Linked DNA regions of Homo sapiens: region 1 is linked to region 2. The links come from fine-mapping of genetic effects on gene expression. A gene starts in region 2. The other region holds a variant in brackets. All regions are shown on one strand. Distances are from middle to middle.

Evidence for each region. PIP is the estimated chance that this variant, and not a neighbour inherited with it, causes the effect.
Region 1: its variant is fine-mapped to the expression of HHEX in whole blood (TOPMed, PIP above 0.99).

The regions. Positions count from the first base shown.
Region 1 is chr10:92,713,560-92,725,121 of GRCh38, reverse strand. No RefSeq gene overlaps it. Among named protein-coding and RNA genes, the nearest start is that of HHEX, 29 kb to the right of the region's middle. RefSeq lists an enhancer at 4,291-4,846. The variant G/A (reference allele first, on the strand shown) is at 4,377.
Region 2 is chr10:92,684,915-92,696,476 of GRCh38, reverse strand. It overlaps HHEX (hematopoietically expressed homeobox), which reads right to left and starts at 6,522. Exons shown (of 4, transcript NM_002729.5): 1 at 6,130-6,522; 2 at 3,931-4,109; 3 at 3,725-3,775; 4 at 830-1,930. The coding sequence starts at 6,490. The coding sequence ends at 1,709. RefSeq lists an enhancer at 4,404-5,211 and silencers at 5,742-5,891, 5,902-5,981, 6,402-6,721, 6,792-7,031.

The DNA.
Region 1 (11,562 bases), 29 kb before region 2:
GCCACTTGGTTTATGAGAAAAAGCAGAAATCGAAATTAAGCCACCATCAACTGTTAATACCTCCAATCAAACTAGCTCCAAGATGAGATCAGGAGCTCTGGAAGAACAGGTCCTTGAGGAAGGGAGGTCTTGGGTGGCTGAAGAACTTGGGAGGGACTGACAGGGGTCTCAAAGAGGGGAGTATAGTCACACAGCTGGAGGGTCCTGAAGGCCATTTTGCCTGCTTACCCATTTTGATCAAGGTCACACCAGCTGGGATTAACATGAACCAATCAGCTGGCATTTATGAATATTAGCTTAGTTTATTGTTGCTGTTGTTGTTATGAAATATTTCAAATATCAAGGAAATTGAAGGAATATCTTAATAGCCAGTTAAATACTCATCACCCAGATTGAATAATATTAACATTTTTTAGCCCTACTTTCATGAGTCATCTTTGTAAAATGTGTTACAAGTGCAGTTCCTTGGGGGCTCTGGAGCAAATCATCTAGCAAACAAGACCTTAGATGTTGTCCAGGGCTATCCCACTGTTACGGACTGAACAGAATTCATATGCTGAAATCTTTACCCCCAGTGTGACGGAATTAGGAGGCAGGGGCTTTGGGAGGTGATTAGATCATGAGAGTAGAGCCCTCAGAAATGGGATTCATGCTTTTCTAAGAAGAGACATGAGAGGTTGCTTCTTGTGTCTCTCTGCTCTCTGCCATGTGAGCACTCAGTGAGAAGACAGCCATCTATGAACCAGAAAGTGGGCCCGCTCCAGACACTGGATCTGTCGGTACCTTGACCTTGGACTTCCAGTCTCCAAAACTGTGTGAAAGAAATGCTTGTTGTTTAAGTACCCAGTCTGTTATATTTGTTCTAGCAGCCCAAACTAAGACACCCACCCTACAATAAGGAAGAGAACAACAGCCAGGAATGGCCAAGTGCTTCATTAGTTAATAATGGTTTTTGTTTGGGTTTTTCTTAAGAATTTAAAAATCTTTTCTTTTTAATTTTTTTTTTAAGAGATGAGGTCTCACCCTGTTGCCCAGGCTGGAGTGCAGTGGCACAATCATAGCTCACTGCAACCTCCAACTCCTGAGTTCAAGTGATTCTCTCTCCTCAGCCCCCTGAGTAGCTAGGACTAAAGGCATGCACCACCACACCTGGCTAATTTTTTCAGGTAGGTGTGTGTGTGTGTGTGTGTGTGTGTGTGTGTGTGTGTGTGTGTGTGTGTAGAAAAAGGATCTTGTTATGTTGCCCAGGCTGGTCTCGAACTCCTGGCCTCAAGCAATTCTTGCACCTCAACCTCCCAAAGTGCTGCGATTACAAGTGGGAACCACCGCACCTGGCCCTCCATAATAATGTTAACAACAACAATAATGACAATAACTGACATTTATTCAATGCTCACTCTGTGCCAGGCCCCCTGCTAAGTGCCTTATGGGCATCATCCATTTCACCCTCACATTGATACTATGGGGTTGTCAGTATGATTCCCATTTTAGAAATAAGCATCGAGGCTTTGAGATTTTAAGACACAACCATGGCACAGCTGGAATGAGCTGGGATGCCACATACTACTGACCCCACTGGAGCATGGGTGGAGCTGATGTGCTTCACCAGCCATTCTTCTCTTATCACTTCTATCTCCCCATGACCTAAACCAAAGGGATTCCCAAGCCTCGCTGTGCACGAGAACCACCTGGGGAGTTTGCTAAAAATAAGATGCTCAGGCCATTCACCTACTGAATCAGAGTGTTCTAAGCTACAGCCCACAAATCTGTACTTCAAACTACCTTTCCAAGTGCTGCTGGTGCGCAGCCGGCTTGGGAAACTGTCTAGAGCTATTGACTTTTCCAGCCACCTGGAGCCAAAGAATCTAGGCTTCAAGACCTCCTGCCCTTCTCCTCCCTTCACAGTGGGCTGCTCATGTAGCTTCGCTTTATATATATTCATCATGTCCTTTGATGAGAGCTAGGACACCGTGTCAGCCCAAGGATGCCTGGCTGTTTAAGAAAATTCAGACCTCTGGGCCCTCCTGCCACCCACCTCCTGTTCAAAAATAGAGTTGTTGCATGCAAGCAGAGGCCAGGTGACCAGGACACAGGGGAAGACATAGCCATCAGCAGCTGCCCCACCCCTCCTTTCCCTGTCCGGCAGCTGAGGAGAGGCAGTTCTTCCCTGTGTAGCCATCAACTCTCCTAGTCAGTTGGTGTCCAGCTGGGCCCTGGGTCAGGAAGTTCACAGCAGTTTAGTCAGTATCATTGAACTGACTTTACAGCATCCCCGGGAGGCAGAACCATGGAAGGTTAGCCAGAGGAGGGACTAAGAGGCCACCTGGTCATTTTACAGATGAGAAACTGAGGTCCAAAGAGGGAAAGGAAGGAGAGGTATCCATATTTTGATCCATATTTATCTGTAAGAAGATTCAAGCTCAAAGGGATGTTGAGGGGCTTACCCAAGTCAAATAGTGTTCAATAGGCAGTAGGTTAGTTAGTTGGTTATCCAGAACAAGGAACAGAATGGCCCACTGGAGTTACCAAATTAGCTCTCTGAACTGTGAGCAGATCTCTGTCTGGTACATATTGATTGGATGGGTTTGGAAATTATGACACCTGCATCAGTAGGTACACAATTATTTGGAAACTCATTCTCAGAAAGCAGTACACATATTGCCCAGGGGGCAGGAAAAGAGAAAGAAAGAAAAGAAAGCCATATGCATATTGCCCCAAAACTTTTTTTTTACAAAAAGCTCCTGCCCATATTCAAAACTAGAACTGATTGAACTGTCGACTCCAGACATGTGATGAGTTCAGGGCTTACCAATACCTTGGCCTGGCTCTTGGCCTTCTTAAATCATTTCTTTTTCCATAACCTTTCATGATTGGTCATTATTAAATGGTTCTTGCACGTTGTCAGTTCAGCTATTAATCAAATCAAATATTTCCTTTTTTTTTACGTTTTAAAATGGTAAACAACCAGTGCCACAAAGTTTCTTGCCTATGCTATAAAAATCTCCAAACATTTCTGGAAAATAATAGCCAAGGTTCAGTGAGCATTTTCTATGTACCAGGCACTATTCTAAGCACTATGTGTGCCTTCTCTTATTGGACTTCTGCAACAACCTTTTGCAGTAGATACTATTCCTATCCTTGCTTTATAACGGAAGGAATCTGAAACTCAGAGAAGCTCTGCAACTCTCCTAAGGTCATACAGCTAGGATTCAAACCCCGTCAGGCTTACTGCAAGACCTGCCCCCTTGACTGTACTGTTCTTCATAATTCTGGAAATAGGATATGAGATATTGAGAACCACCTATTTTATAAACATTTCAATGAACAGTTTTTTAACTCTTTTTGGAGACAGGTCTCACTCTGTCGCCCAGGCTGGAGTGCAGTGGTGCAATCATAGCTCACTACAGCCTCAACCTCCTGGACTCAAGCGATCCTCCCACCTCAGCCTCCTGAGTAGCTCAGACTACTGGTGCCCCCCACCACGCCTGGCTAATTTTTTTAAAAAAAGTTTTGGCTGGGTGCAGTGGCTCATGCCTGTAAGCCTAGCACTTTGAGAGGCTGAGGCGGGTGGATCACGAGGTCAGGAGATCGAGACCATCCTGGCCAACATGGTGAAACCCTGTCTCTACTAAAAATAGAAAAATTAGCCGGGCGTGGTGGCACGAGCTTGTAGTCTCAGCTACTTGGGAGGCTGAGGCAGGAGAATCACTTGAACCTGGGAGGCAGAGGTTGCGGTGAGCTGAGATTGCACCACTGCACTCCAGCCTGGCCACAGAGAGACTCTGTCTCAAAAAAAATTTTTTTTTGCAGAGATGAGATCTTGCTATGTTTCACAGGCTGGTCTCAAACTCCTGGCCTCAAGTGATCCTTCCACCTTGGCCACTGTAAGTACTGGGATTAGGAGTGTGAGCCACCATGCCCAGCCTCAATGAACATTTATCGAGTGCCTTTGATAGTGAAAGTCCTGCAGTATATACAAGGTCAATGTAAGAGATAGCCCTTTCTCTTATAAAGAGTCAGATAGGTATTAAATTAATGTACCAAAAGGCAGAATGTCCTAAGGACTACATTGGAAACAGATAAAGTACAATAAAAACACATAAGAAGGATGGTTAATAGTGAGCAATCAGCAATGACTTCCTGGAGGAGGTGGCATGTGTAAGCTCCTTGAATGACAAATAATGCACCACTGGTAGAGATATAGGAAGGGCAGCTCCCAGCTGCCAGACAGTGTGAAATAGTGAGTGGGGTCAAATCCAGGTTTCATCACTTCCTAGCTACACAGCTTCATCTCTAGCCCTCGGTTTCCTCATCTGGCCAAGTAGAGGGCAATTACATGAACCTGTTCAGGCTGTTGTGGGATAACATCTCTGACA[G/A]TTTCAAATAGCGCACAGTAGGGCTCCCTGATGCTCTGTTCCCTTTCAGGTTCACTGAGTCATTTCAGAATCCACTGCTCTAGGGCCACTGTCCAAAAAAGCTTCGTCTGTATTCCTCTGGGAAAACACTCTTGTCAAGGCTACACTTCAGTCAAATATTCAACAGCAGGCCACTTAAACTCACAACAGGATTTGTAAAGGAAATGAGCACTGAAGCTTAACTTCAGTAGTGTGACGAGGAGCTACTGTCATAGAACAAATGGGTTGTTTATCAGCTTTCTATCTGTCCCTAACAAAACCATGTGAAATGAGGCATTCAGCCCCTGTTTTTTTAAAAAGATGACAAACACTAGCTAATTTACTGGAGTAGAACATATTGAGCCAAATGTTTAGTTTTGCATTAAATCTATATCTAGCATTTTCATTAAAGGGGGCAAATTGTAGACTTTACTGATGCTTCAGTGCCCATTTCAGATTAATGCTTAACATTTAAAACTGTGCATGAAATTGCAAATGTATTGGCAAACACATAAGAAGGAGCAGACTAAGTGCTATGTGCTTATTCATAGCCAGCCATTTCTGAGGCTGCCAATGTGTTATTAAGGTGGTTATTTCCCTACACTTGCCTAGGCTGTGAATAGTTAGTACCCCTGATTACTTAGTTAAATACGCTTCTAGATGGAGAGAGGGAAGGCATGGAAGAAATGAGTGATTATCTAAATTTTGTGCAATGAACAATTAAGTCATAATATACTTCTTGATTCATGGTTGATATTTCCAGAGTAATTAGGTTAGTATCCTTCAGAAAAAGCTCTTCACTTCCATAATCATCATACATGGCCACATTTTAGCTGATGTAGTTGAGGAATAAAAAGGACTAAGGATCTTAGAGAAAAAATAATTTTTCAAACAGAACCTTAATTTTTTGCCACCATTAAAACTAGTAAGATGATACTTTTCCCTGTTGTGAGATGAGAACTTTGGTTTATTTTCTGTAATTTTAAACCTTGACTCAGATATTGTCTGACATGTGGTTATCCAAATGACTGGAGAGAAACTCTGTAGTGTATTTCACGATCTAGAGTATTAAAAATTAAATGCAATGAAAAGCAATGTAATTTGGTACCAAGAAGCAAGCTAGAGTAATTTTTATGAAAGTGGGTTTTGGAATCAGACCCTTTGGGTTTGAACCCCAGCTTTGGTCCCTACCAGCAATTATGGACGGGCAGACCCACCTGAATATGGGATGGAGGAGAGAGGTGGTGTCCCATGAGCAAAAATAAAAAGGGTGCAAGGAGCTGAAAACAACAGGTGTCTAGGCTACTTCAAGGGATGGTGATGGAACTGAGGGGCACAGAGCAGAGAGACCAAATGCCCACTCTCAAATCCCTGGGGTAGACCAGGGCCCAGAAGCCAAGGAGTTTTAATTTGAGGCTGAGAAATCATTTACAACTAGGATGAAGATCCACAAAACAGGTTGGCATCCAGCCCTACTATATCATAGCAGCTCCATATTCAGGGTCTGCCCCAACCACAGCAGGGTTGGTGAGCACCAGCCATCGGAGCAAGCCATATAAACACAGGGGCCAGGAAGAGATTTCTTATTGGTTTCAGAGAGTGAGATGGGTGTGTCAGAAAGGAGAGTCCATGGAATGATCTAGAGACTTCCAGACATTTTATTTTGACTTTGTGTCTCATTCATCCAGGTATCCTTTCTGAAGTCTTTTGTTGTTTTTGTTTTTGTTTGTGTTTTGAGATAGAATCTCACTCTGTTGTCCAGGCTGGAGTGCAGTGGTGCAATCTCTGCTCACTGCAACTTCTGCCTCCCGGGTTCAAGCAATTCTCCTGCCTCAGCCTCCCAAGTAGCTGGGATTACAGGTGCCTGCCACCACGCCCAGCTAATTTTTGGATTTTTAGTAGAGACGAGGTTTTGCTATGTTGGTCAGGCTGGTCTCAAACTCCTGACCACAAGTGATCCACCCGCCTCGGCCTCCCAAAGCACTGGGATTACAGGAGTGAGTGACCACACCCGGCCATCTCTGAAGTTATAGCATACAAGATGAAACACGGACTACTGACCAAGGCCGTTGCTGAGTGCCTCGGTATCACCCAGAACCTCCACCCAATCTCCAGGATGGCTTTTGGTTCTAGAAATACCCACAACAATTCTGTTACTATCTTTACGGATCCTGGCTTTCTATTTTGGTTCCAGGTTCCCAGACAATAAAACATCAACATCCAGCCTCTATTTTCCGAACGGTGTTCACAGAATATTAATTCTAAGGGAAATAATGAGTGCTACACAAGCAAAGGGTTCTATGATCAAACAAACTTTAGGGACACTTTGTTAAACAAAGTTAAATTTATTTCTCAAGGCCAAGTGTGGTGGCTCATGCCTGCAATCTCAACACTTTGGGTGGCCGAGGCTGGTGGATTGCCTAAGGTCAGGAGTTTGAGACAACCCTGACCAACATGGTGAAACCCCGTCTCTACTAAAACTACAAAATTAGCCAGGTGTGGTGGTGCACGCCTGTAATCTCAGCTACTTGACAGGCTGAGGCAGGAGAATTGCTTGAACCTGGGAGGCGGAGGTTGCAGTGAGCCGAGATTGTGCCATTGCACTCCAGCCTGGGCAACAAGAGCAAGACTCCATCTCAATATATATGTATTTCTCTATTTTGCAGGAATTCTCAGGGTCTTTAAGATATGAATGTGCCATGTAAATATCCAGAAGAGGATAAGACATGACAAATTTCTCAAGTTTATTCGACCCTAGGATCCTTTCTTTCTCATATCCCACACTCTGTGAGGCTGGCATACACAAGAGAAAAATGGATAACCAGCCGGGCGCGGTGGCTCACGCCTGTAATCCCAGCACTTTGAGAGGCCAAAGCGGGCAGATCACCTAAGGTCAGGAGGGAGCTCGAGACCAGCATGGCCAACATGGCAAAACCCCATCTCTACTAAAAATACAAAAATTATCTGGGCATAGTGGCGGGCACCTATAATCACAGCTACTCGGGAGGCTGAGGAAGGAGAATCGCTTGAACCCGGGAGGCAGAGGTTGGTTGCAGTGAGCCAAGATTGTGCCACTGTGCACCAGCCTGGGTAACAGAGTGAGTGAGACTCTGTCTCAAAAACAAAACAAAAAAAAACCCCGCAATGTGTCAAATAAATACATTAAAAAATGGATAACCTATAAGACATACAAAACCATAATTTTGTTTTAGTCCATCAGCGAATTGCGCTGTTATACAAAGCAATCAAGGGAACTGAATTCCTAAGGCTCACAAGTCCTTCCAAAAAGGGACAAGACACACCAGCTGTTTCCTCTTTTGGCAGAGAATGGGAAGAACAGACAATCATCAGAAAACTGGATAAGAAGAAAACAAATTCTTACCGGCAAAGGATAAGCTAGCATGGCAGTTTAGAAGCCCTGAGCACGCTGGACACAGAGAAATCCCCATCTGCTTGCCATCCTTTTCCACTGGCCTCTACTCGGCATGCATGAGAAAGACTGGAAACAGCACAGTAGGCCTGGGAGACCCTTCCCCCTTGGTGGTACAGCCCTACAGCACCTGCCAAGGTTTTAGGGTGGAGCAGGCATACCTAGGGAAGCCCATTCATGCTTTGAGCCTTGTCTGAGGACAAGGTAGTGCCTGTCTGCCCCTGGGGGAGGGGCAAGAAACACACTCTGATATAAATTAGCGGTCTACTATTGCCAGGTGAAGGACAGAAATCTCTCTTGGGCCCCAGACACTCCACCACTACAAAGTCAGAGTTCAGTAGCTACAGGAGAAAGGGGAGGAAACCTGCCTGTGCTCTAGATCCAGAACTCAGCAGGAAGCAGAGGTTATCCCTAGGAGAAGCCCTGAAATGTTAAAAAAAAAAAAAAAAAAAAAAAGTTACCACTCCAAGAAATTATGCATGTCAATGAAAGGGTCAAATCAAGGTAGACAGGGACAGACTGGCTGGTTGGGAGACTGGGGAGAAATACAAGGACAGTATAGTGGGCACTGATGTTAGCAGACCTGGCCCAGGATCCAGGGTCACCCCCTAATAGCTACATGACTTTTGCAATGTTATCCAAAGTCTCCAAGTCTTAGTTTCCTACATGTAAAAAGGGTGAGCCGGCCACGTTGGATCATGCCTGTAATCCCAGCACTTTGGGAGGCCGAGGTCGGCGGTCACTTCAAGTCAGGCGTTCAAGACCAGCCTGGCCAACATGGTGAAACCCTGTCTCTACTAAAAATACAAAAGTTAGCTGGGCATGATGGCAGACGCCTGTAATACCAGCTGCTCAGGAGGCTGAGGCAGGAGAATCGCTTGAACCTGGGAGGTGGAGGTTGCGGTGAGCAGAAATCATGCCACTGCACTCCAGCCTGGGTGACAGAGCGAGACTCCACCTCAAAAAAAAAAAAGAAAAAAAAAAGGTGAGAGTAATGGAATCTTCCCCAGAGGAATGCTGGGGAACTTGGAGCCATGTAAAACACGTGGCATAGTGCCTGGCACATAGAAAACAATCAATTGCTTTGATTCCAGCAGTTGTTGGAAACTGATAAGGAGCGGTTGCAAAAGGCACTTTCCTATTTGTAGAGGAAATTAGTTGTTTTTACCTGACAATCTTTCAGTTCCTCTTCTTCTGTTAACATCTCCCTAGTTTTCTTCCAGGAAGCCCCTTATCCACAATCAATTTACGTGATTCATGTGGCACTGACCCCTCCCCATCCCTACCTTTAGGAGTAGGGATATGACCACATCCTGGCCAACCATCATGTTCCATGTCTGGGCTGTAGCGATAAGTTCAAGGATGAACACGCATGTATGCCAAGGCAGCCCAATGAGAGACAGTCCTGAGACTTCTCATGAAACTATTCTATCTCCTAAAGTTGCTAAGCCTGAAGTTGTGAGGATTGGGAACAACTATAACTCTCAGGCATTGCTAGAGGGAATGCGACATGGTACAGCCACCAGGGTGGGCTGAATAAGTGTTCCCCCCAAAATTCATGTCCATCCTGAACCTAAAAATGTGACCTTACTTGAAAATAGAGTCTTTGCAGATATAATTAGTTAAAGTAAGATCATACTTGATAAGGGTGGGCTCTAAACCTAATGACTAGTGTCCTTAAAGGAAAAAACCGGTCGCTCACGCCTGTAATCCCAGCACTTTGGGAGGCCGAGGCAGGCAAATCACCAAGTCAGGAGATCAAGACCACGGTGAAACCCCGTCTCTACTAAAAATACAAAAAATTAGCCAGGCGCAGTGGCAGGCACCTGTAGTCCCAGCTACTCAGAGGCTGAGGCAGGAGAATGGCGTGAACCCGGGAGGCGGAGCTTGCAGTGAGCCGAGACTGAGCCACTGCACTCCAACCTGGGCGACAGAGCAAGACTCGGTCTCAAAAAAAAAAAAAAAAAAAGGGAAAAACACAGAAAGACACAGGAGAGAAGGCCATGTGCAGATAAAGGCAGAGATTGAGTAACACAGTTACAAACCAAGGAATTCCAAAGTTTGCAGGAGCTACCAGAAGGTGAGAAGAGGAAGGAAGGGTCAGGCTAGTGGCTCATGACTGTCATCCCAATGACGGCAGCTGACCATGGCCACAGACCCAGGCCTCCTGCTCTACTGAGCAGGCAGGGGCCCTGCCCCCCTGGGTGGGGATACGGGCACCCAAACTGCAGCTGTGGACGCAAGCCTCCCCTCACTCTTGAGGGTGGCCAGGAGCAGGCAGGATCTGCCCTCCTGGGTGCAACTGCAGCCCCTGGACCTGCAGCTGTAGACCTGGGCCTCCTGCTCCACAGAGCAGGCAGGAGCCAGGGACAAGCAGAGGAAGAGGCTTCCAAGTTGGAGGGGTGGTAGCTCCCAGAGTGCAGCTGCAGCTGCCCTCCCAGGCACAGGACCCAGGCATCTCTGCAGCCTGCACCCGCGGGGGCCCAAGAAGGCCCCTCCCCAAACATACCTGCAGGCCTGGGGTTGTCTGCTCCCATTGCCTGGCCTCTCCTCTCCCAGTGCCTGCTCCAATCTCCAAGCAGGGTTGGGGCTGAGCCCCGGGGTCATGAATGGCAGCAGAAGGCAGACAGATTCCTGGAGGGAAGGGAGCAGGTTCCAGTAAGGCCACACCTTCAGGCCAGAGAGGGCCTGAAGGCTGGGGGCTGGGCTGCCAGTCCCGCAGACTGGAGTGGGGACTTGTGCCTCCTCCAGGTCACCTATGGCTGCCCATGGACCAATCAACACATACTTCCTCCCCTCTGAGCCCTGGGATCAGCAAGAAGAGGGCAGAGGATGGAGAGACAATGGCAAGACTAGCTGCAGAGAAGAGCTACCCTCTCTGCTGAGAGCAGAGATGCTCTTAACAACCCGCCTGTGGAGAGGAGCTACCCTCTCCAGGGCCTCGTCTCTGCTGAGAGCTGAACACTCCATGGGACAACCTGCCTACAGAGAGGAGCTACCCACTGTGGGTCTCCTCTGAGCTGTGCTAACACTAAATAAAGCTCCCCTTTGACTTCTTCACCTTTCACTTGTCTGTGTACCTCATTCTTCCTGGACACAAGAAGTCAGGCAAAGGTGCCACCGGCCACAAAGGTTTACAGGAAGAAAATCGATACCCCAAAGATCCCAGTACTTTGGGAGGCCAAGGCGGGCAGATCACTTAAGGTCAGGTTAAGGTCAGAAGTTTGAGACCAGCCTGGCCAACACAGTGAAATGCTGTCTCTACTAAAAAGACAAAAATTAGCTGGGCAAGGTGGTGGGCACCTGTAATCCCAGCTACTTGGCAGCCTGGGGCAGGAGTATTGCTGGAACCCAGCAGAAAGAGGCTGCAGTGAGCTGAGATTGCCCCACTGTACTCCAGCCTAGGCAATAGAGCGGGTCTGTCTCAGGAAAAAAAAAAGGAAGGAAGAATTCTCTCCTAGAGCTTTCAGAGGGAGTATGGGCTGGCCAACATTTTGAATTTGGACTTCGAGCCTCACAGAACTATAAGGCAATAAAATTCTATTGTTTTAAGCCACTAAGACCATGGTAATTCATTATGGTGGCTCTACAAAACTGAAAATGTTTGGCGGTTTCTTATTAAATTAAACCTTCATTTATCCTATAATTCAGGAATCCTATTCCTAGATACCGACCCAAGAGAAATGAGAACATATGTTTACACAAATACATTTAAGTGAACTGTTTATAGCTGCTTTA
Region 2 (11,562 bases):
TGGATAAGCCCCTCGTTCCTCTGTTCCCCCTCGCCTTTCCCTCCTCTCAGCCCTCCGCCCCAGCCTCTTGCTGGCCAAAGTTACCCGGGAAAGCAGGTGGGAGGAGGAGTGCCGGTCCCACCTGCTTCTTCCGCACCCCGTGCGCTCACATCAGTGGTTCCCCAGGGGTGGTGTCCGGGCCCGCAGCTTTGGCGTCACCTCAGCTCTTGTTGGAAATACAAATTCCCGGTCCCAGCCCAGTCCAGTCCTAACAGATCAGAACTCCAGGAACAGGGCTGGGTTTCCACAAGCCCTGAAGGAGGTTCTGAAGTTCCCCGGGTTCGAGAACAGTTCTCAGCGCAAACCACCTCCCCGCTCCCCTCGGCCAGGGCCCCCCATCCCCCCACTCGGACTTCCCCACCCCGGGCCCCGCCGCGCGGAGCGGGTTCCCGAGCCCCGGCCGCCGAGGGATGACGCGGTGTTGACTCAGCCGGTCAAGGACGGCGAGGGCCAGCCCGGCTGCCGAGGAGAATCGATGGGGTCCGGACGGCCCCGCGCTTCACGGCGCAGCGGGCCTGGGCCTCGGCTCTTCCCGTCGCCTGGCGTGCCCGGGACTCGAACCCATCAGGCTCAGAATCCGCCGGCAGGAGCAGAGCCCCAAGGCAAACGGCCCGGGAGAGGCCCCAACCCACGTTCCAGGCACCCACCCGCGGTCCTGGGACTCGGAACGAGAGCCCCAGCAAGATCCAGCCCCAGTCACTTCCTGTCCCCAGAGCCCAGCACCGCGCCAAGCACCCAGGAGGTCAAGAAAAGGTGTGCAGACTTTTTAAAATCAAAGAATTAGACTTGCAACGAGGTCAGTCGTCCCACGGACGGCTTTATTTTATAGTCAAGTTACTTATTAAAAAAAAAACACATTTTGGCCATTTTTTTTACAGTGAACAATTCTATATACACATTATAAACATTGTTTGATATAAAACAGTATCTACAATCTACTTACATTTAATTAACCTGTGACTTCTAGTTCATCTGCGATTAACTTTAGTCAGGTCAGTTTCTCTGCTTGAATTGGGAGGTACTATCCCCTTAACACCTTGGTCAAACAGGTACTAAGTGATAGTGCAAAACAAGCATTTAAGATTCTCATCAACCATATCTCTGACAAAAAGAACACACATCTCTGAGACAAGAGCTCTGAAATGTTTTTGGATTTGAGACAGCAGTATAAGAATGTCATATAAAAGTAAAGAATGTTTTCCTTTTAAAATACTCCAAGGCTGCCTGAAATGTAGGCACCTCTGGATTTGGGGTACCCCTTTGCCTTTCCATTAAGTGGGAGATAAACAGATTACAGAAAAGTCGTTCAAGAAGGTCCTATTAAAACCTTTAAAGCTATAACTTAAAAATTTAACAAAAAGTTCAAAATTAATTTTTTATAAATAGTGAAAACCACTAACTGTTTTTTTAAAGGGGGAAGAATTTAATCACTATAATGTCACTTTATCAAAACAACCTAAGAGCAGTACATAAACTATTTGTTAAGTCAAAATTAAGGTCTCCATGTAGGTTTGTTAATTGAGCAGTGCACCAAATATTTTTAGGTTTCCAGAATACCAGAGAATTGATTCCCTTTCTTATATAGCCTTCCAGTTCTTCTATGAAGATTTTCTGTAGCAAAACATTATTCCTAAATCCAGTTTTCTGAACATGCCAATGCCAGTGGTCATCATCCAGCATTAAAATAGCTTTTATCGCCCTCAATGTCCACTTCCTGATCAGAATCCTCTGAAATCTCTGATTCAAGGTCTTCCTGGGAGGCAGGGGAGGGCGAACATTGAGAGCTATCCAAAGAAGCACCTTTATTCTGTTCACTGGGCAAATCTTGCCTCTGATCACAGGAACTGTCCAAACTTTCCAGTTCTTCTTTTTTATTGCTTTGAGGGTTCTCCTGAATAAAGGAAATGAAAATGGAGATTGGAAGGATCATAAAATATGGATAGGTGAGAGGAATAAATCAAAATGTCTCTTCATCCTATTCCATCTTTTAATTTTTAGTTTACTGAGTGTTTTCAGTTTATAATCTTATTCAGGAGATACATACTTGTGCTTTTTGCTCACTTTGGAAGAAAAGTTTCTGTCATATCAAAGATTATATGCTTAAAAGATGAGAACCAGTCATGAACATAAGGGCAGATACATTATACCAATTGAACACAAATTCTGGTTACTTAACACCAGCCCAGACCCATGGTTTCAATATTCTCAAAAGTTTAAGGGGGAAAGAAAATCAGATCACTACAGATACACCTTAACTTCATTCTTTAAATATTTAAACCTTGCCAATTAACAGTCTTTCAGACATTTTAAAAATAAGAATGCTAACTGGTGAATTAAGAATAAAGTTTCAATTATTAGACTGGATCTTTTTTCATTCATTTTCTGGAGTAAATTTATAAACATCTACATGTGTAAATGTTTAACAAGTTACAAAATCATGGCAAAGAAAAAAAATGTGGATCTGGAAGAATGCTGCCAACTGAGAAGGTAGACAATTAGCTACAATTTACTTAAAATCTGGGGCAAATTTCTGGGAAATATCCCCATATTACATAGAAACCACTATTTTTAAGGTCTCTGGTAAACTAGAGTCAAGCCTTTGACCAAGAACTATTAAGTATATAAGCTAGTGAATTTTTAATCCTATACTTGTCTAAAATGCATATAAATACTACATAGAAATATTACAACATCTATTTGTTATATAGTTGCAAGCCTTATAGTCTCAACAAATAGATGCACACGGTCAGAAATTGAGAGTGGATCTGCAAATATTTAAATCACATTACAGTAATGAAGTTATGGGAATTTTATTTTCTATTTCAAAATATTCTTTGGGACACTTTCTTTTTAATGAAAAAGTAATGATCAATAAATTTTAAAATCCACTTTGCTTTAAATTTCTCCACTCATTGTTTCAAAGTATTTATTATAAACCGTATATACAATGACAAGTGAACAATTCAGCAATTATCAGATAACTTTGGAGAGTATATCCAGATTAGGACATCAAAAATGAATGTTTAGCTTTAAGTCAATAGACCTTCTTTTAAAAACTAAATTAGCCTTTACTTTTTATCACATATTGCGAAACAAGGTCACTGGAAGAAAGACTGTCAGAAAGTTTAAGCTACTTTCCAAACAGGCTTGAATATTTTCTTACAAGTTTTATATTTCATTTTAAGAGCTGGCATTAGATAGAAAATAATTTTTAAACTCCCTGACATTTAATTCTTCTAAAAAACAGTGCAAACAAGACTTAAAGGTGTTTGTTTCTTTATATTTACCCTTGAGTTCTGCCTGGTTTTATTATGGCTGTGTAAATAAAAGAAACAATTTTCTCCCAAAGATAACTGCTTAAGTCATTTACTGTCAATTACTTTATCTTTCCTGCGTTAATTAGATAAACAACATATGGGATTTATAAAACAATTAGCTGGGAGTTTTACTAGCCAGTGTGTGAAAACCCAAGCATAATTGATATAGGAACCCCATTAGGTGCTTTTAGCATTACTGCCACCTGAGCAACTCATCCTGAATTTCAGCAGGACTATTTGTCTTTTTAATCAAGGTGAAGAGGTTAAATAGTCTCTTAAATGACTTTTGCATACAACCCATAACAGCCTTGCACTGAGATAACGTGATAAAAATATTTATTTCCATAGAAACAGAACCATGTCCATACCTGTTTTAGTCTCCTCCATTTAGCGCGTCGATTCTGAAACCAGGTTTTGACCTACAGGAAAGAGAGAAAGAAAACTTGCAACGAGCCCGCGTCGGGACGTGCCAGAGGGCAGGGTGGCTCCTCGCCTCTCTCTCGGTGGCCCGGCGACCCCTACCCCAGAAGCCTTCCCTTCCCCGGAGGCGGCCCCAGGCCCCCCGCGAGCTCACCTGTCTCTCGCTGAGCTGCAGCATCTTGGCCAGACGCTTCCTCTCGGGCGGAGAGAGATATTTCTGCGTCTCGAATTTCTTCTCCAGCTCGATGGTCTGGTCGTTGGAGAATCTCACCTGGCCGCCTTTCCTTTTATGCAGAGGCCTCTGCAAGAAGGGGCTCCAGAGTAGAGGTTTGCCTGCGAGCGGGAAGAGCGGCGCTCACCCACTGCCCTGGAGCGGCCTGGCCAGACCCCAGAGCTGTCGGGCCCCAGGGATGACAAAGGTAGGCCAGGAGGCCACCCAACCAGACACATTCACATACACCCACCGGCACGTGGACCTAACACGTTCCCACCGACACACAAACATACCCAAAGTCACACACTGACACCGCAGATGCACACAGCCTTGTACACACACAGACAGACACACAGCCGTCACACCTAGAACTAAATCCAGACATACCTTTAACCCCAAAAAGAATGGGCACTACCGGCTGGGCTTACAATACCACGACCCTCTTTCCCCAGTGGCTCTCGGATTTATACATAACTTTTTGCCCCCTTGGATCTCCCTTGGTGAGCCGCACTTGCGAACACCGGGTGTGTGCGTGTTGGGGAGGAGCGGGGCTGCTGCACCGACAAGGCCTGGCTGCGCGGGAAGCGCTCGGGCCCGGACACCCGCATTAGGTTGCGCGAGGAGCCTCCAATCCTGGCCGGGGGAGCCGCGGCCTCCTCTGATTTCACACCCAGCCCGCGGGGGCGGCCAGTTAAAGCCACCCCATGGGCTATGGCAACATTTCCGTCAATGTGTTTCCTGTTGGTCTAGCTCGAAAAACTCTTTGCTTCCTCCTGCGCGGTCCCAGCAGTAACCCAAGGAAACTCAGGGCGCACTGTGAAAACGTTAGCCCCCAGGCCCGGCCCGGCTGAGGGTCCCGCTCCAGCCCCGACAGGCGACCACAGCCAGGCTCGGGCCGCATCATCAAACCCTCGAGGCTGGAATCAGACAGACAGGATAACAACTCAAAAACATAAAAAGATGAACTAAAAATACAATCCCCCTCCCCTGTTAACGGTGAGAAGGTAAGGTAAAGGGCTGAGCTAGAGCCCGCGCCGTAATAATGGAGACATTAAAATGCTAATTAAGACGTTAATTGTTTTCAGGGTCCCTACTGAAGCTTCCAATAACAGAGTTCATTTAAAACTCTAGAGGCGCCCCGTTTCCTTATTTACCCTAGGGCTCCAGACCTCGAAGGCGCCAAGGGTCACCCACAGCGCGGACCACGGGCGGCTTATTTGTTAGGCCGCACATTGAGGGGACAAGCCCCGAAGTTCTGGAATATATGCCCTATGTGTCCCTGCTTCCCTTCCTAACTGGCGACCAGGAGCTGCTGCTTCCTACTCCCAAAGTAGTGTCGGTCGGTCCGTCCGTCCGTCTGCAGGCCTGCACCTCAACGCTTTGAAAGCTAGCATTGTTTTTTCGAGATTTTGCTTGCGTCAGGCTTCAGACTGGTGCAAAACAGCCTCGAAAAAAAATAGGAAGCAACTGGTTATTTTAGCTGCCATAAAGTCACATCCCACACAGAGGAAATGAACAATATCAGAAAAACGGATCCCGGCTATCAGAAGTCGAGTGTTTCCTGAATTTGTCTGTATTGAGGATGTCGATAAAATAATCAGCAGCGTGCACTACTCCGGGGGAAGGGTCTGCTTCATGCAGCCAGGAAAACACTTAACAGCTTCTGAAACCAGATTTACTCCTATCGAGAACTCAAGATTTCCTGTATGAACGGAAAGGGTCAGGCTCTTTCACTGCACAAGCCTGTTGAACCAGGTCCAGCCCCGTAGCCACCCGGGCCCGGCTGCGATCCCTGCCCCACGGGGGCCGGCCAGGGGCGCCTCGACGCCCCTTTCCCCGTCCCTCCCGCTAAGGGAGCCCCACCCCGGGTAACACGCGCGGTCCACGGCTGCCCTCGCCGCGAGGTCTACCGCCGGCCCGCGCGCCCCGACGCCTGCAAGGTGCAGGAAAACCAATCTGAGTCACGGTGCGGTCAGCCCCGGCCGCGCGCCTCCCGTCCCCGCGCGTGCCCGACAGCTGCTTTTCCATCGCTTTTGCCACAGCCGTCTACCGCCTGCCCCCTTCGCCCCCTCGGCCTCCCGGGCGCTGCCACCTGCCGGGTGGCGCTTCCTCGCCCCCACCCTCGCCCGGCCGCCTTACCCAGGGGGTCGTGGCGGAGCAGGGCGTGCGTGTAGTCGTTCACCGTCCGCGGGAAGGGGTACAGAGGGCCCCCGAAGCCGCCGGGTCCGTAGGCAGCGGCCAGCGCGGCGGCGGAGTGGTGCGAGAAGGCTGGATGGATCGGCGTGGGCTCGTACACCGGGGTCCGGTAGGGGGACACGAGGCTGGTGAAGGAGGAGTTGGGGGACGGCAGCGTGGGGGCGGGCGTGGGCGCGGCGGGCCCGCGGCCCAGGATGTCCTCGATGTAAAAGGGCGTCGGGTGTGCGGGTTGCAGCAGCGGCGTGGGCGCGTACAGCGGCACCCCCACGGCGCCCGCCGCCGGCCCGGGGTGCGGGTACTGCATGGCTCCGCCGCGCTCCGGCCCCTCGCAGAGCTGCTGGCCCGCGCCGCGGCGCTACATTTATCCGCGCTCCGCGCTCCCGGCGATAGGCTCCGCCGGCCGCGGGGTGGGGCCGCGCTCGCTGGCCCCTTCCTGCCGCCGGGCCCTGCGGCCAATGGCGCGGGGCCCCAAGAGCAGCCGCCCGCCCCCACCCCGGCCCGCCCCGCCGGCCAAGCTCCCCGCCCCCGGGACGCGCTTGCTACCAGGCTCCGGGGAACTGGCGCCCTGGTGCCCCGCCGCGGCTGTCGCCCCTGGGGACTCCAGGCACCCCGGCCGAGGACGCCCTCGAGGGAAGCCCTGGGCCGCGTCCGTCGGGGGAGGCGCGAGGAAGACCGCCTTCTGGAGTGCGGGCTCCAGCGGCCCTGTCCGCGGCCCCGAGGCACCTCTGCCGAAATTCGGGGGCGCCGTCCAGGCCTGGGCCCGGGGTGGCAGCAGCTGTTTCCAGGCGGGGAGCAGCGGGACTCGGCGGGAGCAGAGGCCGCTGGCCTAAGACGCCTCCTCGGTGGGTGCGCTCCCTGGATTAACAGTGGCGCTGGCTGTCACACCGGCCGTTTCCCGAGCTCAGAGCGGGACAGTGCCCTGGGTTCCTAGGGCTGCTCGGCGGCCCTTAGCTGCGGCCCGGCGGGATTCGGATGGCTGGAGTTCAGGTGCTGCGGACTCTTGGCCGCTCCACCTGGTTTCATTTGGAGGCCTCGGACTCAAGCCACTTCCGCGAGGATGCTGGCAGAAGCCGCTGCGAGCAGCAATCAAGGGGAGGCCCGGGTCCTACAGCGCCGGGCAGAGGCTGTGCAGTCTTCAATCCAGTGGGGGCCGCTCCGTGTCTTTTCTGCTGGCTCTTGAGGGTCGCAGCTGTGCGCAGTCTGGCTCTCTGGTTTTGCACGTGTTTTCTATTGAAGCAGTCCGTACTGCTGGCCCGTATGGCCTCGGCTCTGTGCGGCTCCACTCGCCTCCGGGGCAAGGGGGCATTTTCTTGATTGACGCCCTCCTGCGGTCGTCACACCTCGCGGTGAGCCGTTTCTGCTAAGGTCCTCCATTAATCATGGAAATGGAAAGACTTCCCTGCTTTTTCTATTGAGACTTCTCAGGTTTTAAAGTTTATAATTTGGAACTATTTGTCCAAACACAGCGGGACCACAGTAGGAAGAGGCGTGGACTGTGAGCCTGACCGCCTGTTCGAGTTTCACTTCGCACATTTTTGTTGAGCAACTACTGTGTGCCAGCAGTGAAAAGGACAGATGTAGTCCCTCTCCTCATGGAGACAGGAAACAAATTTTAATATATGTATGTGCTAGGAAGGAGATGTACATAATGGTCTAAAACCTGTAACAAGGGGACATCACCTATCTGGGGGACATTAAGGAAGGGAAAAGCTTCCCAAGAATTGATGTTTGAAAAGTGAGTGGGTGTCAGCAAGCCCAGGGTGCTTGGACATTCCAAGTCCGGAGAATAGCATGTGAGCGTTGTTAGTTAATGCAACTTCCGTCAAGTCACCATCCCTGAGTTTTTCTCATCTGAAACGTTTGAGACTTGGCCTAAAGGCTCCTGATCTTTTTAGGGTATTGTTAATAGGTATCTTTCAGAATCTAATGACAGACAAGAGCTACAAGCCCAGACAAACTCAGAAGTGTACTACACTATCATTCGAGTTAAAGCATGTTGGGGGTAGGTAAGAATATAATTGCTCTATTATACAGTACATATAAATCATAAATTTTTATATTACTCCATGATATAAACTATCTCTGGAAGGATAACGAACATTGGCTGACTATGAAGAAAGGGGTGGGATTGGAGGGGGCATGTATAGCTGTGAATATCTGGAGACTTGCACTAGATGGATGTATGACCTATTCGTCGTATAAGTAAGTCCTTGAAGAAGTGGCTGATTCTAGATCTAGGGCAAGAAAAGTACAAGGTAAGCTCAAAGACATCTTGTGTCAGAAACCGTGAAAAGAAAATAGGGACCACCTTGGAGTGGTTTCCATCGGCAAAATTTGGGGTGATTTAAGCTTTAAAAATACATTAGGGATTATACCACTTTGAATATAACAATTCGTGAGTCCATAGTGGTACTCAGAGAGAGAAAGGTGCAGTGGATGTGAAAGCTGGAAGAATGTCAGCTAACAGATGTAGAAAAATTGGTACAATCGAAAAACGTAATAATTCAAGAAGAATCATCATCAACTAACACGTGAAATGTTGAGGATGAGGATTTTCACAAGGCCTCATATCATCCCAATTAACTGGATTCTGGATTTTAAAAAACTATAAAGGAGCCGGGCGCGGTGGCTTACGCCTGTAATCCCAGCACTTTCGGAGGCAGAGGCGGACGGATCACGAGGTCAGGAGATCGAGACCATCCTGGCTAACACGGTGAAACCCCGTCTCTACTAAAAATACAAAAAATTAGCCAGGCGTGGTGGTGGGCGCCTGTAGTCTCAGCTACTCAGGAGGCTGAGGCAGGAGAATGGCGTGAACCCGGGAGGCGGAGCTTGCAGTGAGCCGAGATCGCCCCACTGCACTCTAGCCTGGGTGACAGAGCCAGACTCTGTCTCAAAAAAAAAAAAAAAAAAAAAACTATAAAAGACATTGCTTTTTATTGGGGGGGGGGATAATGGGGACAAACTATGAAGTATATGTTAGTTGACATTATTAATCTTTTAGATGTGATTGGTATTGCAGGTTACTTTGGAAAATGCGATCTTGGGAGTTGCAAGCTAAAGTCTTTAGGAGTGATGGGTCATATGTGCAGCTTACTTTTAAATACTTCAGTATATACATATATGTGCATACACATCTACATGTATATTTATACACACATATCTATGTATATGTTCATATATGTATATATAAAGAGGGATATATCACAGGTTCAGTTCTAGACCACTTCAATAAATAAACATAGCAATAAAGCAAGTCACATGAATTATTTGGTTTCCCAGTGCATGTAAAGGAGGTTATCTTTACACTTTACTACATTCAGTGTGCAATGGCATTATGTCTTAAAAAGCAACGTACATACCTTAATTTAAAAATACTTTGTTACTAAAAAATTGCTAACGATTGGCAGGGAGTGGTAGCTCATGCCTGTAATCCTAGCACTTTGGGAGGCCAAGGCTGGCGGATCACTTGAGGTCATGAGTTGAAGACCGGCCTGCCAATATGGTAAAACCCTGTATCTACTAAAAATACAAAAATTAGCTGGAAAGTGCTTGAACCCGGGAGGCAGAGGTTGCAGTGAGCTGAGATCATGCCACTACACTACCAGCCTGGGCAATAGAGTGAGACTCCATCTCAAAAAAAAAAAATTGCTGACAATCATCTGAGCCTTCAGCAAGTCATAATCTTTTTGCTTTTGAGGGGTGTTGCCTTGATGTGGATGAGTGCTAACTGATCAGGGTGGGAGGCACAGAAGGTTGGGGTGGCTGTGGCAATTCCTTAAAGACAACCATGAAGTTTGCCACATCTGTTGACCCCTCCGTTCATAAAAGATTTCTCTGTAGCATGTGGTGATGTTTGATAGCATTTTTATCCACAGTAGAACTTTCAAAATTGGAGTTCATTTTCTCAAACCCTGTGCTGCTCTATCAAGTATGGTTGTGTAATAGTCTCTCTTTTTTGTCCTTTTTTTTTTTTCTTTTTTCCTTTTTGTAGAGAATGGAGTCTCGCTCCATTCATTGCCCAGGCATGTCTCGATCTACCGGGCTCAAGCTATGCTCCTGCCTCTGCCTCCCTAAATGTTGGGATTACAGGCATGAGCCATTACATCCAGCTATGTAATATTCTAAATCCTTTGTTGTCATTTCAATAATGTTCACAGCATATTCACCAGAAGTAGATTCCATCTCAAAAAACCACTTTCTTTGCTCATCCATAAGAAGTAACTCCTCATCCATTCAAGTTGTATCATGAGATTGCAGCAATTCAGTCACATCTTCAGGCTCCACTTCTATTTCTCTTGCTGTTTCCAGCACATATGCAATTACTTTCTCCACTGAAATCTTGAACCCCTCAAAGTCATCTGTGAGGGCTGGAATCAACTTCTTCCAAACTTCTGTTAATGATATTTTTACCTCCTCCCATGAATCATGGCCTCTGGAATGGTGAATCCTTTCTGGAAGGGTTTTACTTGACTTTGCCCACAGAGGAATCACTATCTATGGCAGCTATAGCCTTACAAAATATATTTCTTAAATAATAAGATTTGAAAATCAAAATCACTCTTTGATTCATGGGCTGCAGAATGGATGTTGTGTTAGCAAGCATGAAAACAACATTCATCTCTTTGTATATCTCCATCATAGCTCTTGGGTGACCAGGTGCATTGTCAATGATCAGTAATAATTTGAAAGGCATATTTTTTTCCTGGGCAGTAGATCTCAACAGTAGGCTTAAAGTGTTCAGTAAACCACACAGTAAAATGATGTGCTGCCATCCAGGCTTTGTTATTTTATTTATAGGGCACAGGCAGAGTAGATGTAGCATAGTTCTTAAGGGCCCTAGGATTTTCAGAATGGCCAATAAGCATTGCTTTAAACTTAAATGTCAGCTGCATTAGCACCTAACAAGAGAGTCAGACTGTCCTTTGAAACTCTGAAGCCAGCATTGACTTCTCACTAGCTATGAAAGTCCTAGATGGCATCTTCTTCCAATAGAAGGCTTTTTGGTCTACGTGTAGAATCAGTTTAGTGTAGCTACGTTCATCAATGATCTTAGCTAGATCTTCTGGGTAACTTGCTGCACCTTTTCTATTAACATTTTCTGCTTCACTTTGCACTTATGGTGATGGCCTCCTTCCTTAAACCTCGTGAACCAACCTCATCTAACATCCACCGTTTCTTCTGCAGCTTCCTCACCTTTCTCAGCCTTCATAGAATTGAAGAGAGTTGGGGCCTTGCTCTGGATTAGGCTTTCGTGTAAGGGAATGTTGTGGCTGGTTAGATCTTCTATCCAGACCACTTGCACTTTCTCCAGATCATCAATAAGGCTGTTTCACTTTTTAGCATTCATTTGTTCATTGGAGTACCACCTTAAAT